3 separate regions of the Homo sapiens genome follow, and all the other regions are reported to be linked to region 3. Evidence: microRNA targets listed by miRTarBase, many of them from high-throughput screens and not tested one by one. Region 3 holds a microRNA gene; each other region holds the end of a gene's coding sequence.
The links. Region 3 holds the annotated microRNA hsa-miR-3605-5p (UGAGGAUGGAUAGCAAGGAAGCC, at 3,038-3,060, shown strand). A microRNA usually pairs through its seed, bases 2 to 8, with sites in the 3' UTR of a target mRNA and lowers its output. Matches are read on the target gene's strand: a 7mer-m8 pairs with bases 2 to 8, a 7mer-A1 pairs with bases 2 to 7 and ends in A, and an 8mer does both.

Region 1 (5,000 bases), not on the chromosome of region 3:
GCGTGTGTCCACATACATGCCCACGCGTGTGCACACACACCCACGTACCCACATGTAGATTTGTACAGAGGTGACAAGAGGCATATTCACTCCTTTGCCTACAGCTCTGCTGCCCCGTATGGTAACCCTTATCCCACATATAGTTAGTAAAACTAATTGCAATTCAGTAAAAGTGGAAACTGCATTCCTCAGTCACACTAACTGCATCTCACATGCTCAACAGCTGCATGTGGTTAGCGGCTACCGCACTGGGCGGTGCAGCTCTAGGACATGTCTGTTGCTGCAGAAAGCCCTGCCCTGCGCCCTCCGTTGCTGTCTGCTCCCCCATGGGCCTTCCACTTGCTCTTCCTCTCACACTCGCTCACTCCTGTGCACCAAGCACACACAGCGCCATGCTCTCACCTAATGGGTGGCCTCTCTAGCTCAGTCTCTCTCTCTTTAGTCTCCCCAGTACCTAAGCACAGACTCTGCCTAGCCCTGCATTGCAACACCTGGCCTCTAGTCTGGAGAGAATAACAGGATGGAAACATGACCACATCCACAATCCTAGGATGAAGGACCGAGGGGAGCTATGTGGATCTGGAGAGCTTTGGAAACTCAGAGGGGCTGAGCTCAGGCTGGGTTGGGCAAGGGAATGGGAAGAGAATGAGACATTTGAGCATGGCCCGGACAGTAGGGTGTTGAGCATGCAGAGAGAAAGGACATCTAGAAGGCCTGGAAGTGGGGAAATGCAGTGCATTTGTGAGAACTGTTGGCCACCCTTTTTGGTTGGTGTGACAGATGTGGGCAGGGGAGGGGACAGTGAGCCTGGGCAGGTGGGTAGTGGCCAGGTAGAGCCTTGGATGCCAGGCTCAGGATGTCCCTGGGTCCCCCACGAGGGCAGATGGGGATGTGGCCTGGACAGCCAGGGTCCTAAAGTCCCAGAGGTCCAAGTGGACAGGGTTTCCTGGGCAGCATGGCAGGCATCACCAAGCAATCAACACATTGATCAAGAGATGGAGCCTGGTGCTGTGGCTCATGTCCGCAATCCCAGCACTTTGAGAGGCTGAGGCAGGTGGATCACTTGAGGCCAGGAGTTCGAGACCAGGCTGGCTAACATGGTAAAACCCTGACTCTACTAAAAATATAAAAATTAGCTGGGCGTGGTAGTGCATGGCTGTCATCCCAGTTACTTGGGAGGCTGAGGCATGAGAATTGCTTGAACCTGGGAGGCGGAGGTTGCAGTGAGCTGAGACTGCGCCACCGCACTCCAGCCTGGGTGACAGAGTGAGACTCTGTCTCAAAAAAAAGAGAGAAAGAGAGATGGATAGGCATCACACAACTTTGGGTAATTTGCATATGAATAAGCCTTCATTTATATGCCATCATTCTTATCCTCTCTACACTGATTCCCTTTCTACACTGTCCTAAGTGTGGTAGAAGTGCTAATGATGAATTATTGAAGGCCATAATGAACGGCCATGAATACTTAATGACATCACGATATTAGTATTGCTGATGGATGGTATCTACAGACTTGTCCATCTCTCTGGAGACCTTAGGGAGGAGTGCGGGCTTTTTGTTCTTTTTGGGTTTAGACCTGAGATGAGGTGAGAGAGGTGACCAGCTGTCGTCTCGCTGTCTCCCTGGCTCCGGGTGCCTGGTTCTCTCTGGACTTCTGACGCCCTGGATTCTCTGTCCCCCGCTGACCACACTCGCTGTCCCCCTTACCTGAGATGGGGGAGCCGAACAGTCACCTTCCCTCCGGGCCTCGCCTTCTCAGGGCCTCTGGGAAGGAGCAGGCAGAAGGTGAAGGGAAAGAGAAGGGACGGAGAAGAGGGGGGAAGAGGAAGCAAGAATTTAAGAAAAAAAAGAAAGAAAGAAAGAAAAAGCTTAAAAAGGAGTAGGCGGGAGGCGGGGGCACGATGGTTCCCCAGACCACCCCAGCCCAGGGGGGTTGTGTTCTGGGGATTCAGGAGGTCGAGGCACCCAGTCCGTGGTGAGCAGGGCCAGGTCTCCTTCCTTCCCAAGAGCACGGTGCGAGTGCCTTCCCCACAGCTCTCCCAGGTGTCTGTCTCCCTCACTCCCCCAGGGCCAGGACAGCGAGCAGGGAGCACGCCTTCCTCCTGGTCCCTCCCAGACCCTCGCCAGGCTCAGCAGACCCCTCTCCTGTTGCGTTGCTCCTTCGGCAGGAGGTCAGCGTGGGTGAGAAGGGAGCAGAGGCCAGATGACCCTTCATGTCAGTTCAAGGAGAGGCCCCCAGGTCCTCCTCACGGGTTCCACTCCCCTCACCCTCCCAGTATCCATGAGCATCCCACCGCCACCAAGTGCAGGGCATCCAGGGGGTGGAGAGTGGATGGGCTTGAAGGGGAGTGGGTATGAGGTTTGGACAACCCCAGATGTGAAGAGTGTGTGTGTGTGTTGTGCACGTGGATTGCCTGTATGGTATTGCAGGGGAGAAGAGGATTTGGAAAAGGTGCAAGGAAATTGCAAGAATAGAAAATGAAAGAGGAAGTAGAAAGGTTTGCGGTATAAGAAGGGTGAGAGAAAGGGGAGTGGGGTTATGGAGGGATCTAGAAGAGAATAGTGGGGAGGGAAAGGGCAGGAATGGAAGGCAAGCCCATCACCCCAAAGCCCCTTCCCCATGTCTACCCCTCCCCCAACTCCAAAGAAGGAAATTAGGAGGCCACTGCGGATTATGTTTGGGTCATTTCCACATGCTTTATTCCAGCAATCAAAATAATTAAAAACATCTCAAATTATTATACACATACAAAATAGGTACAGAGTCTTTTGCTTCCTCCCACCCCTAGGGGGAAAAACTGCTTTGTGCTTTGGGAAGTTGTCTCTGAAACCCGGGGACAGAGGACGCAGGACAGACTAGGAGGGAGCCGGGAGGATGGGCTGCAGCTGTGGAGGAGGGTTTCAGAGGAGAGAGGTCGGAGAGCAGAGGCCTGAGAAGCCAGAGGCAGGTGGAGAGAGGGTGGAAAGTGAGCAGCGGGCTGGGCTGGAGCCGCACACGCTCTCCTCCCATGTTAAATAGCACCTTTAGAAAAATTCACAAGTCCCCATCCACAAAAAAAAAAAAAAAAAAAGAAAAATATCAAGGAATAAAAATAGACTTTGAACAAAAAGGAACATTTGCTGGCCTGGGGGGGCATCTCAATTTCTATAGCACCAGTGATTCCCTCCCCACCCCACCCATCACATAGATGTAGCACCTTTGGTATAAAATGGGGAGCCGCTTCCACCCTGCCCCCATCCCCGCCCCCAGGCAGTTGCCCCGGTGACACATCAAGACAAGAACGAGGTAGTCTTTCAGCAACACAGTTACACAAGGAACAGAACAGTCTCTCCCGCCCAGCCCTGCGGCACAAGGGATTGACACGCGTTCCCCAAATCCGATGTTTCTGCTTTGTCGTGGCCCTTCCTGACTCTCCTCCGAACCCAGTGAGGGGCTGGTGGCTCCCCCGGCATGACCCCCTCAAAAACGAAGGGGAGATGTTGCAAGAGCCATGGGAGCGCCAGATGGCAAGGCTTCTTTGGCAGTCTGAGAACCCCAGGTCCCCCAGGGCCTGGGGGTGCTGGGCGGGCAGGAGCGGGCTGAGGGTGGGGGCCACTTGGGTGTTTGAGCATTGCCTTTGATTGCTGGGCAGACAATACATTGTTTCCTGTGTCTTCTGGGGAGACAGATTTGGGAAGGAGTGGAGGGGAGGCCCCAAGGGGGGTGTGGAGAAAGGAGCAGAAAGGGCAGCATTGGGGTTTCATAAGCCCAACGGGCAGAAAGGGACTTACCCCCGCATGGGTCTTCAAGCAAGTGGACCAAGCTTCCTTTTTTAAAAAGTTATTTATTTATTCTTTTTTTTTTTTTTTTTTTGGTAAGGTTGAATGCACTTTTGGTTTTTGGTCATGTTCGGTTGGTCAAAGATAAAAACTAAGTTTGAGAGATGAATGCAAAGGAAAAAAATATTTTCCAAAGTCCATGTGAAATTGTCTCCCATTTTTTGGCTTTTGAGGGGGTTCAGTTTGGGTTGCTTGTCTGTTTCCGGGTTGGGGGGAAAGTTGGTTGGGTGGGAGGGAGCCAGGTTGGGATGGAGGGAGTTTACAGGAAGCAGACAGGGCCAACGTCGAAGCCGAATTCCTGGTCTGGGGCACCAACGTCCAAGGGGGCCACATCGATGATGGGCAGGCGGGAGGTCTTGGTGGTTTTGTATTCAATCACTGTCTTGCCCCAGGCTCCGGTGTGACTCTGGGGTGGGGCGGAGACAACGGGAGGGGGCATTACCACGTGGGAGTGATGGAGAGAGGGCACTATGGCCTGGCCAAAAAGCCCAAGGCCGGAGAGGTGGGGCCCTGCCTGGGGATTCTGGGCACTCACCGTGCAGCCATCGACAGTGACGCTGTAGGTGAAGCGGCTGTTGCCCTCGGCGCGGATCTCGATCTCGTTGGAGCCCTGGAGGAGCAGGGCCTTCTTGAGGTTGCCAGTCTGCTGGTCCATGTAGGCCACGCTGTTCTTGCAGTGGTAGGTGATGTTCTGGGAGGCCTCGGTGGACATCAGGCGCAGGAAGGTCAGCTGGATGGCCACATCGGCAGGGTCGGAGCCCTGGCCGCCATACTCGAACTGCAGGGGAGGGGAGAGAGGGAAGAGTGAGCCGCTATGCGGGAACCTCTAGTCCTGCCTGGCCTCCCTGTCCAGGGTCCTCAGAGAGCTGCCCAATGCACCGTTATATCGAGAGGAGGCACCACCTGCCCATCGGCAGCCTGTGTCTGAACCACTATCAGGGACCTGAGACCCCTGCCTCCCAGCCCAGCTCTGTCCATCACCCTTAGCAGAGACCTACTCCAGGACTTCATGTCCCTTCTGAGCACTGGGCTAGCCCATCTCCTAACACTGGCTCTGAGGTCCAGCTCACGCACCTGGAATCCATCGGTCATGCTCTCGCCGAACCAGACATGCCTCTTGTCCTTGGGGTTCTTGCTGATGTACCAGTTCTTCTGGGCCACACTGGGCTGAGTGGGGT
Region 2 (5,000 bases), not on the chromosome of region 3:
AAGCTCTTGCTATATTGCCCAGGCTGGTCTGGAACTCCTGGGCTCAAGCAATCCTCCTACCTCAGCCTCCCACAGTGCTGGGATTACAGGCATGAGCCACCGTGCCTGGCCTGTGATCCATCTTGACTTGTGACTTGATTGCCCTAACACCAAGGGCTGTTGTTTGGGGCATGTTGCCCTTCTGTTTGTCACTCAAGATAAAAATACCACCTATTGATGTGGAGAGAGTGGTTCTCAGGGAGTCTATTGGGGCTTTGGACAATAACATCTGTTGGTAAAAGTCCTGGGTCTCCAGAGTGACGCTGGTGCGTTCTGGGAACTTCTTGCTCAGGCCTGTGCATAGGTATCTGATTTAAATTGCAGCAGGGTAGCCGGGCATGGTGGCTCACACCTGTAGTTCCAGCTACTTGGGAGGCCAAGGCAGGAGGACTTCTTGAGGCCAAGGGTTCAAAACCAGCCTGAGCAACATAGCAAGACCCCATCTCTACAAAAAAAGTTTTTTTAAGCTGCAGAGGGGTCAGCCTTCAGGGAATGTTGCTCTCAAAGACTTGGATGTGGTGGGAGGAGCCAGCAGACCCTCCCCTGCCTGCCCAGCCCACAGCTCAGCAGAGCCTCTTCTGTGCTTCCCCCAACAGCGAGTGCGGTGGGCCCGGGCGCTGTATGACTTTGAGGCCCTGGAGGATGACGAGCTGGGGTTCCACAGCGGGGAGGTGGTGGAGGTCCTGGATAGCTCCAACCCATCCTGGTGGACCGGCCGCCTGCACAACAAGCTGGGCCTCTTCCCTGCCAACTACGTGGCACCCATGACCCGATAAACTCTTCAGGGGACAGAAGCTTTTTGTCTGGAGCTGCCCACAAGAAAGAGGGCAAGGAAAAAAGGCTGGACTCCATGACTATATATACATACATCTATCTACATCTGCCTGTGTACACACACAACTTTTTATACTAGTAATTTATTGGCAATTGGGCTGGTAATTAGTTGATGCAAAAGGGAACTCAGGTGGAGAATAATATTGACACTTGCTTTTCTGCCCCCCTCAGGGGTGTGTGGAAGGCAGTGGGGGAGTTGGGAGGGGGGCAGGGAAATGAAATGGAGTTTTGTCCTGGCCTTCAGCTGTCACTGCTTCCTCCTTGTCTTGGGAATTTTCACGGAGAACAGCTAAGCAGAGACCACACCTCGGCACTGGACACAGAACAACAGGGTGGGGTTGAACTTGGTGGGGCACGTTCTAGCTGACCTGCAAGCCCCGCTCACCTGGAGGGCTTGCAGAGCAGCTCTCCTCCTGTTCTCCAAGGGGTGGGCACTGTTGCATTAGGAATTAAGGTGCAGCCCAGTGCTGCGGGCAGCCAAGCGAGTCTGAGCGGGGATGTGAAGGCAGGACGGGGTTGGAGAGACCCTGCCTGTGCAAGGCTGGCCTCCTAGTCAACACCTAGCTGAGACATTCATCTCTGTTCAAATTAATATTCCTTGGGTCTTTCAAATGAATGTTTCAATGTGAGGAGCGAAGTACTGGGAAATCGAGGGATTTTCCACAATCCCCAAGCAGCTTACTCAGTGGAACCTCTGTTTCCCCAGCTATGAAGGAAATAGCATCCTACATTCCGTAAAGTGCTTGAAGAAGCTCTAGCTGAGAATGCTGAATTTTACAGTCATTGTTTTATGGTTACAAGGGTATGTCTTCAGGGCTCTGTTCATTTTCCCTCTTGATTTTCTCTTTTGAAGATGCCTTGCCCAGTGGCATGGAAAGAAGCCCACTTGATGATAGGAGCCTGACTATGAATTGATTGACTAAACATGACCCCAGGTGGAAGCTGGCTTTGACACCAGCTTCCTGTTCAGTCTGACCACTGCTGTCCTCCTGCTGCCCAAGAGTTGCACCTGGAGCAAGGAACCCCACCATGGCTGTCGCTCTCCATCCCATCACGCTAGAATCATGTGTCCAAGGGCTCACTCTGGAGGTGCACAGCACAGGTCAGCCTGGCCAGGGGCGAAGGAGACAGTAGAGAGGAAGCTCAGGGCCTTAGGGGAGGCCGGGTGCAAACCCGTTCTGCACCAAGTGCACTCGGAGTTTGTGGGTATGGGTGTGTACCCCTGCAGGTGTGCACATGTGTGCTTGCACGCACATATTTGTGCACTCCTGTGTGTATACATGTGTGCTTGTGTATGCATATGTGTGCATTCCTGCATGTGTGGACATGTGCGTGCATGCATCTGTGTGTCTGTGTGTGTGCTGAGACAGGAAAGGGGGTGAAAGTGTTGGTGAGGGAGCCTGGAAGTTTTCTCTTCCCCAACCTCTCTTGCTCTAAGGAGGGATGGGGTTGGGGGCAGCCGTTATTGAAGGTGATCGGAGAAGAAAGATTTTCTGACTCAGAAGTGACTGCCAGTGTAGCACAAGCAGTGTCCCTTGTGACTGTGATTCTACAGTTCTCTGATCCTCATGTTTCCTTTAGAGGAAAGAGGAAAAAAGGAACTCTGTGGTGGGTATTGGGAGGGAAAAGAAAATAGCCTGGTGGAGGCAGGAGGGAGTCGAGTGTGAGTAAGGAGCACCTGCAGCTTTTGGAAGTGAAAGCAGAGAGAGGGAAAGGTAGCTAAGACATCCAGGAGGATCAAGGGGCAGCGTGAGAGGCACAGGGGGAGGAAAGGGAGAGGGTGAGTGGGGCCAGGGAAGAGAACGGTGTGGAGTTGGTGGGCAGATGGTGCAGGAGGAGGGCTGGGCAGTGGGGAGAGGAAGAATCAGAGCAGAGAAACCGCTGCTGCGGAAGGCAGGGAGCAAAGAAGCATAAGGAAAAGAACAGGAGAAAGAACAAAGGCAGAGAAGACCTCCTCAGCTATTTTGGTGCTAGGTAATGTGAAATGCTGCAGTAAATAAAAGCCATAAGTAATGTTTGATTTTACAGTATTTACAAACCATATGCTTTAAACAGCCCACAAACTCCATCCAGTTGTCTGATGATGTGGGAGGACCAGCTCTAGTTAGACGGAGGTATGTGATTCGATTCTGGTGGAGACTTTGTGCCTTGAAAGGCTTCTCAGGAAAGCAGTAATAAAACAAAGTGTCCTTGTTTGGCCAGGCCGTGTCTGGTGTCTGCGTTGCATACCCCTCAGGTAGAGAGTGAGAACGAGACCAGGGGGTGACAGGGGTCATCGGCCTGCAGGAGCTGACCCCGTAGGCAGGCGGTATGAGCAGAGCTTTCAGAACCCCTGGAGCTCGGTGTTCTGTTGTAGCAAAAGCTACTGAAGAGTATTTTGTACTGAGATGCCAAAGCATCTTTCCCTTGCTCATCAGCCTCCATTCAGAAGGAAGCGGGAAAGTCACCCAAACCACCTACAAGGAATGAGGGCTCTTAGCGGCCAGGTAAAGAGGACAAGAACCAAACTGTCCACATTATGGAGGGGAGGGGGAAAGAGAGCTCAACCCCCCTCAGCCTCTGGTGCTGCCAGGGGGAGCCCCTCCGCATGTGTCCCCACGGGCCCTAGTTTCTACCTGACAGCATTTCAGCACCAGAGGAGGGTTGAGCCAGCTCCTCTCACCAGCCACAGAACCAGCAGCCAACAAACACATTGTCCCCGAGTTTGGCTGCAACACTCTATGTGACTTGGGAACTTGAAGCTTCCAGAGAAAAGCCAGGTCCTGTTGGACCAGTTGTTGGGTTTTCCTAACCACTTGCTGTGCCTCACCGCATTTCAAATATCTGGCACCTGCCACTGCCCACCCACTTTTAGATGGCCCTAGGGTGATCTAACCATGGTGCTTCTCAAAATTTAAAGTGCCTACGAATTGCCTGGGGACCGTGTTGAAATGCAGCTTCCAACTTGGTCCTGAATTTCTAACAAGCTACTGGGTGCTGTTGCTAGGTCCACATGTTAAGGAGCAAAGGCAAAGAACTTAGCAGTGAGCACAACTCTAATTGGGCTCTTCTTCTGAGGATATTCGGCCATTTTTTCTTCGCTGCTAACGAATAGGTCACTTTGGCTTTGGGACAGATGCAATTCAGAACGGTCATTATGACGTCATTCATATTTGGCTACCCAGGTGACTTATTATTTTAGCATCCTTATCTCTAGAATTAAAAAAATGTAATGTGAGAGGAATTCAGATGAAATGCAAACAGGAATTTCCTATAATAATTACTATTTCCTAATAGTAATTATTTTAAACATCAGCAGAGATTGCAGAAGTTGTAAAAGCTTTGTCAGGAAATCTTCAGTCATAAAATTGACTCTGGTCAGATGTGGCCCTGGTTGAGGCAGGGGACTGTGCTCCCAGCTAACCTAAAACACAACAGCCCACACTCGGGACAGATTAGCATGGCCAAAATATTTACTGTTTGCCTTGTCTAAGCCAACATTTTAGCCCCTCTATACCAAGGCAAGTGTGTGAGAAAAACCTTGATTGTCTCAATGCTTTTTAAAAAATGCCTCCTCAGTTCCTCCACTTTACTCCATCACCTTGGCCATGCCACCATCATCTCTTCCTTTGGCAACTGTCAGCTTTCATACCTTTCTCCCTGCATTCTCTCCCGTAATCTGGTCCTCCACACAGATGCCAAAGCGATCTTTGTAAAAATAAATCCGATCACATCACTCCCCTTCCCACTGGATTTAGGCTTAAGTCCAAAGTCCTAATGTGGCCCTGTGAAGTCCGGCCCCTGCCTCCCTCCTCAGCCTCCTCTTCTGCCTCCCCTGCCCCTTGCTTTTATGCTCCTGCCCCACTGGCCTTTCAGCCTCCAAATGGCCAAGGATTTGTCCCCAAACCTTTCACACTTGCCATTCTTGCTACCTGGAGGCACATCCCCTGCTAACCCTGCTAACTCTTGTTCATCTCCAGGTCTGGGTTGGTTTTTTGTTTTCTGTTTTTTGTTTTTTGTTTTTGTTTTTGTTTTTGTTTTTGTTTTTGTTTTGAGATGGGGTCTGGCTCTGTTGCCCAGGCTGGAGTGCAGTGGCACAGTCTCAGCTCACTGCAGCCTCTGCCTCCCAAGTTCAAGTGATTCTCCCA
Region 3 (5,000 bases):
GCATCTTCATATAAAGTTTTATGCAAAGATTACTTAACAAGTGTGCTGAAATCACTTTTAAAGTATATATCACTCATACCTCACTGGGGTATGCTTTATATTAATGGACTTGTTGCAATAAAGAAATGGCTTTTTCTTTTCTTTTTTAGGAAGTTCCAGGTTAAAGGCAGCCTCAGCTCACGGGGCAGTTGATGGTGGTAGAGAACAGCCCTGGGAAGGGGGCGGGAGAGAGTTACAGAAGTGAGGAGATGAAGTCTTGCACGTCTAAGACAATGAGACAGCTCATGAGAGATGCTGTTTGAAGTGGAAGAGAGGAAGTTCACTGTCGTGTGGTTGTGTATAGGCATGTAATCTCACTTTCTGGAGCACTCTGTTAGGTCTTTTAGAGGAAGGCTAGCAGGCCCATGGGGAAGGAGAATTAGGAAAGGTTGTCCACAGAGAGACAGAGGATCTATGATTTGGTGAGGATCAGATTAGATAAGAAGCTGACATCTGGGCATGAGGACTGATTTTGAGAGCACTCAGCTCAGCAGAAACAGCAGAGAAAATCTCAGCCTCTGCCTAGCAGCCTTCTTAGCAGAGAAATGGAATTTCTGCATATTTCAATGCACTGACCCCAGATGACCAGTCTCTGAATAGTCAAATATACATGATAGCCTTTACTTGGGGTTCAGCACCCACATTCCCTTGGCATCAATTTCTGGGGTTCAGTGTTTTGACATTTCACAGGGCTCTTAAAATCCCTCCTCTAAGGAACCTCGTAGAAGCTTCTCTTTATCACACTCAAAGCCCTATACCTAGCTCAGCTTCTTGTCCTGGTTTTAGATGTCACCTTGAATACTTTTCTCCCTCAAACTGAGTATTAACCTTATTTGTTCAAATCAGTATCGACCAAGGTCTTAACTCCTCAAAGATAGAATTCCCGTCTGTTTATCCGGGTTAACTGTTCATAGCACGGTTGGGAAATGAAGAAACACTGCTAGCTGATTAGCTGCATGCGTTGTTGTGGAACTGACTATACTCATACTTGGTGATGTGTCCATTGAAACTGTGCCACTTTTAAATGGGTCACTGAGGGGAGGGGACTGCTTGGTTTGCATTGTCGCTTGGCCCCACGGTAAAAGCCGGGCGCAGTTTGAGTCCTTGCTGTCCCTCCCTGGGCGTGGACTCTGGTTCTGATCTCCCCTGCTTTGTTTTCCTACTCTCTCTCGTGCAGAGACAGGGCAGGGCATTGTTCATGCACTGACCGACCTCAGCAGCCCCGGCATGACCTCAGGGAACGGAAACTCTGCCTCCAGCATCGCCGGCACTGCCCCCCAGAATGGTGAGAATAAACCACCACAGGCCATTGTGAAACCCCAAATCCTGACGCATGTTATCGAAGGGTTTGTGATCCAGGAGGGGGCGGAGCCTTTCCCGGTACGGACTACTTCTTTTCCCCTTTTTTTTTTAAGTATATTTTGGATGTGTCTTAGAATATTTTTACATTTCCATGTAAAATTTCTGAAAATGTGAACAATTTGCTCTTTCCTTGCTAACTTCCTCCCCCAAAGAATATAGAGCCATTTCTTTCTAGGATTATCTTTCCAAGGTCCAGAAGAGGGGGGTCAGTGATCAGGAATAATTGACAAGACCCTTGGTTAGAAGTTTCCCACACAAACTCAGGTGTGTCCCTGCCTGTTGATGTGTGAACCCTTGGTTAAAAGGGAGTTCACTGTGGGATATTTGGTGAGAGATGATGGGTTTTGGGAAATTAGATTTCATTGAGTTTTGAATGCCAAAACCTCTGAATGGCAAAACTTCGGCCAGTTAGGAACAAAAGGAATTGCACAGAACAGAATTCTCCAGATACGTGTATCAGAAATGAATGTGAGGAAACAGGGTCACAACCTGAAGCTTGTTTTCTGGGGACAGAGCCTTGAAAGGGGAGTTAATGAGATTGAGGGGCACTCAGAAAGGTCACGATGGAAGCCTAAGACTAACAAGAAATATCCACGAGCCACGAAGATGGGTTATTGACCAAAGCACCCAGAGCTGCTTCTGTGCAGTGTGCACTGGAGACAGTGGTGCTGCCCTGTGGGTGTGGAGGAGCCCAGAGCCAGCGGCACACCAGCCTCTGTTCTGATGAAAAGTATCTGGCTGTTGGAGAAGACACCTTTCTGGGATACCATCTGCCTTTTCCTCATTCTTTGGTTCCATGAGTGGTTTGATTAGTCTGCAGAAGACGCGGAGCTTGATTAACTGAGATGGGTGAACTGCTCCTGTAAAATGCCAAAAGACACATAGCTTCTTGTCTTCTTTCCCACTGGAGGTTGTCCAAGGCCAGTGGCAAAGAAATCTGCCTGGAACACCTTAGCTAGAAGTGGCTCTCGCTCTGTTACATCCCTTCCCTGTTAGACTGGGCCTCCTAGAGTAACACTAGAAACCACCTGATCTCATGGGGTGGAGGCAGATTGCATAGCACCCCCAGCATTGCCCTAGAGTCGGTGCCACGTGACTGGCTACCAGGCTGCCTAAACACAGGCCACAAAAGGAGATCTAAACGCGTAAATAAGCTGCTCTGGGGTTCTGACAACTGAGAGTTCATTGGCTCTGTGGCCCAGGGTCTGTTTTTTCCTGCTATACTCTGTGGCGGCCTGTACCTCTGGCTTGGGTCAGGCATTGGGGTAAGGTGGAGAACAGTAAAAAAATCAGAAAATGGGTGCTGAGTCTCTCTCTCGTATGTACAGCCTCACACAGACTCCGCTCTGTCCTTGCCTGGAGATGCGTGGGTACTGGGTCTTGGTGCTTGATCTGGCACTGTGGGAAACCTGATCTCAGCCCTTAGACTCTTACTGGAATAGACATTTTCCTAATCTCCTGAGCCATCCGTTGGTCCTGGACAGAAGCCATCCCTGTACTTTGCCCATTAGCATCTTACCTCGTGAGCCAACCAGCAAAATAGGGCCTTGAGCCCAGCACACTTGGATGATGACATGGGGGAAGGTTTGAGGAGGGCTGGCCTCTGTGCCTGGATACTTTATACGTGTAATTGTGATGAGGATGGATAGCAAGGAAGCCGCTCCCACCTGACCCTCACGGCCTCCGTGTTACCTGTCCTCTAGGTGGGACGCTCGTCCCTGCTGGTGGGGAATCTCAAGAAGAAGTATGCACAGGGGTTCCTGCCTGAGAAACTTCCACAGCAGGATCACACCACCACCACTGACTCGGAGATGGAGGAGCCCTATCTGCAAGGTGGGCATCTCAGACCCTGAATCTCTCGGCCTCCCAGCGTGGCTGGAAAGGCAGGCCTCACACACTTCCTCTCTCTGTTTCCCCAGAGGAACCCTGAGCCAGCGAGTCTGTAAACATTTCCCCCAGCACCTCCTCAGCCTCCTTCCCTCAAAAAGAGGGATAGGGGAAATCACGGGAACCATGTGTCCTCTGCTCCCCCAATCCCCCTCCAGCCAACCACAGGATCCCAAGAATGGCTTTTCCTGTGGGAATCATTGGCAAGTTTTAGGCATGACTGTAGGAGTGGCCCCAGGCAAGTCCTGCCCTTCGTCCCTGCCTTGAGACTGGGGCCAGCTCTAGGTCACAGCAGAGACCAGGCAAGGCTGCTCTTTCCACATGAAGCACTGACAGAGCTGCACAGCTGCAGGAGCGTGGGCTCCTGAGGTCTTTTACTGGGTCAGCAGCCAGCTGCATAGATCAAGGTGTGATGATGCCAGCGGAGCAGCTGTGACAGCATCCAGAGTATTTCCTGGGGGCTCCTGCTTTCTTCCACAGTCATTTGATGCTGATTCTTCCCCACCTGTGTTTTGCCTCAGACTCAGACCACGTGGAAGAAAAAAATGTCAAGTCTACAAGGGGCATCCCCAGACACCCTTGAGTGCATTCCAGGGGTGAGAACCACTGGCATTTTCCATGCTAGAATGCTGCTGTATGTCACAGCTGTGGGAGCAGGAGGACCAGGCAGGATGGAGTAGGGAGGCCCCGTGGTGGGGCTGGCCACAGTCCTGCAGGAATTTCTCATTCTCCACCCTACCCATTTCTATACTTTTCAGAATCCAAAGAGGAGGGTGCTCCCCTCAAACTCAAGTGTGAGCTCTGTGGCCGGGTGGACTTTGCCTATAAGTTCAAGCGTTCCAAGCGCTTCTGTTCCATGGCTTGTGCAAAGAGGTGAGTGGCCCCAGCCCCCTCCATTTCCCCAGGACTGCACTTTATGTCCCACCTCCTGCCATTAATAGTCTACCCCAGGAGGTCCATAGGGGTGGCTTCTCCAGTTTCCTAGTTCCTCGACCCACCTGGAAGCAGGATGGCATCCCTAATTCAACAAGCACGAGAAGCCAGAACCCCTAAGAGCAGGTGGGAGAGAGCAGCGGGAGTCCAAGGAAAAGCCGCAGTGCTTTGGCTCGGCTGGCCCTCCTGGGCTCCACTGGCACCCATTCGCCTTTCCTAGCATTGACAGCCCCTGCCTTGTTAGGGTAAGCCTTACCCAGAACCACAGCTATAGTGTTCCCTTGGTGAGCTCTCGCCCAGCATAGATCACTAATGGTCATCATAAAAACCACTGCCATTTCCTGAGAACCTGCTGTGTGCTAGTCACTGTGCCAGTCAATTGATACGATTATCTCATCTTCAAAATAACTCCCAAGACAGGTATTACTATTGTCCCCTTTATACAGGTTAGGAAGCCAAAGTACAAAGGAGTAGTAGTGCCTCAGATAACATAGCTAATAAGCCATGGGCCTGGGGATTTAGGCTTGTCCAATTCTAAAGCCATGTGTGGTCTTTGTACCACAATGGAAGCAACAGCTGACCTTGAAGCCCTGAAATCCCAGAAGAGAAGAAATCTCTAGGTCCCAGACAGAGGTGTTCTGCATGCCAAGCTAGAGTTCAGCTATCTTCAGCCCTCATTCCCCTCAGGCTGTTGGAGCAGCCAGGCCACTCCCCAGCAGGACAGTGGACAGTAGTTTCCCGTCACAGGGTAACATTTATAGTGGAATAAGTCAGGTGTG

Region 1: the mRNA of COL1A1 is a reported target of hsa-miR-3605-5p. Seed matches in the 3' UTR shown: 7mer-m8 at 2,875-2,881.
Region 2: miRTarBase lists GRAP2 as a target of hsa-miR-3605-5p. Seed matches in the 3' UTR shown: 7mer-A1 at 2,436-2,442.

What each region holds. Positions count from the first base shown.
Region 1 is chr17:50,181,421-50,186,420 of GRCh38, forward strand. COL1A1 (collagen type I alpha 1 chain) reads right to left here. Exons shown (of 51, transcript NM_000088.4): 49 at 4,897-5,000; 50 at 4,358-4,600; 51 at 2,681-4,228. The coding sequence ends at 4,082. Among named protein-coding and RNA genes, the nearest start is that of COL1A1, 18 kb to the right of the region's middle. RefSeq lists enhancers at 1-42, 502-1,397, 2,973-3,963.
Region 2 is chr22:39,970,270-39,975,269 of GRCh38, forward strand. GRAP2 (GRB2 related adaptor protein 2) reads left to right here. Exons shown (of 8, transcript NM_004810.4): 8 at 636-3,452. The coding sequence ends at 815. Among named protein-coding and RNA genes, the nearest start is that of TMA7B, 12 kb to the left of the region's middle.
Region 3 is chr1:33,330,509-33,335,508 of GRCh38, reverse strand. MIR3605 (microRNA 3605) reads left to right here and starts at 3,017; the gene lies at 3,017-3,116. PHC2 (polyhomeotic homolog 2) reads left to right here. Exons shown (of 15, transcript NM_001385109.1): 10 at 1,217-1,419; 11 at 3,105-3,234; 12 at 4,047-4,161. RefSeq lists an enhancer at 4,925-5,000.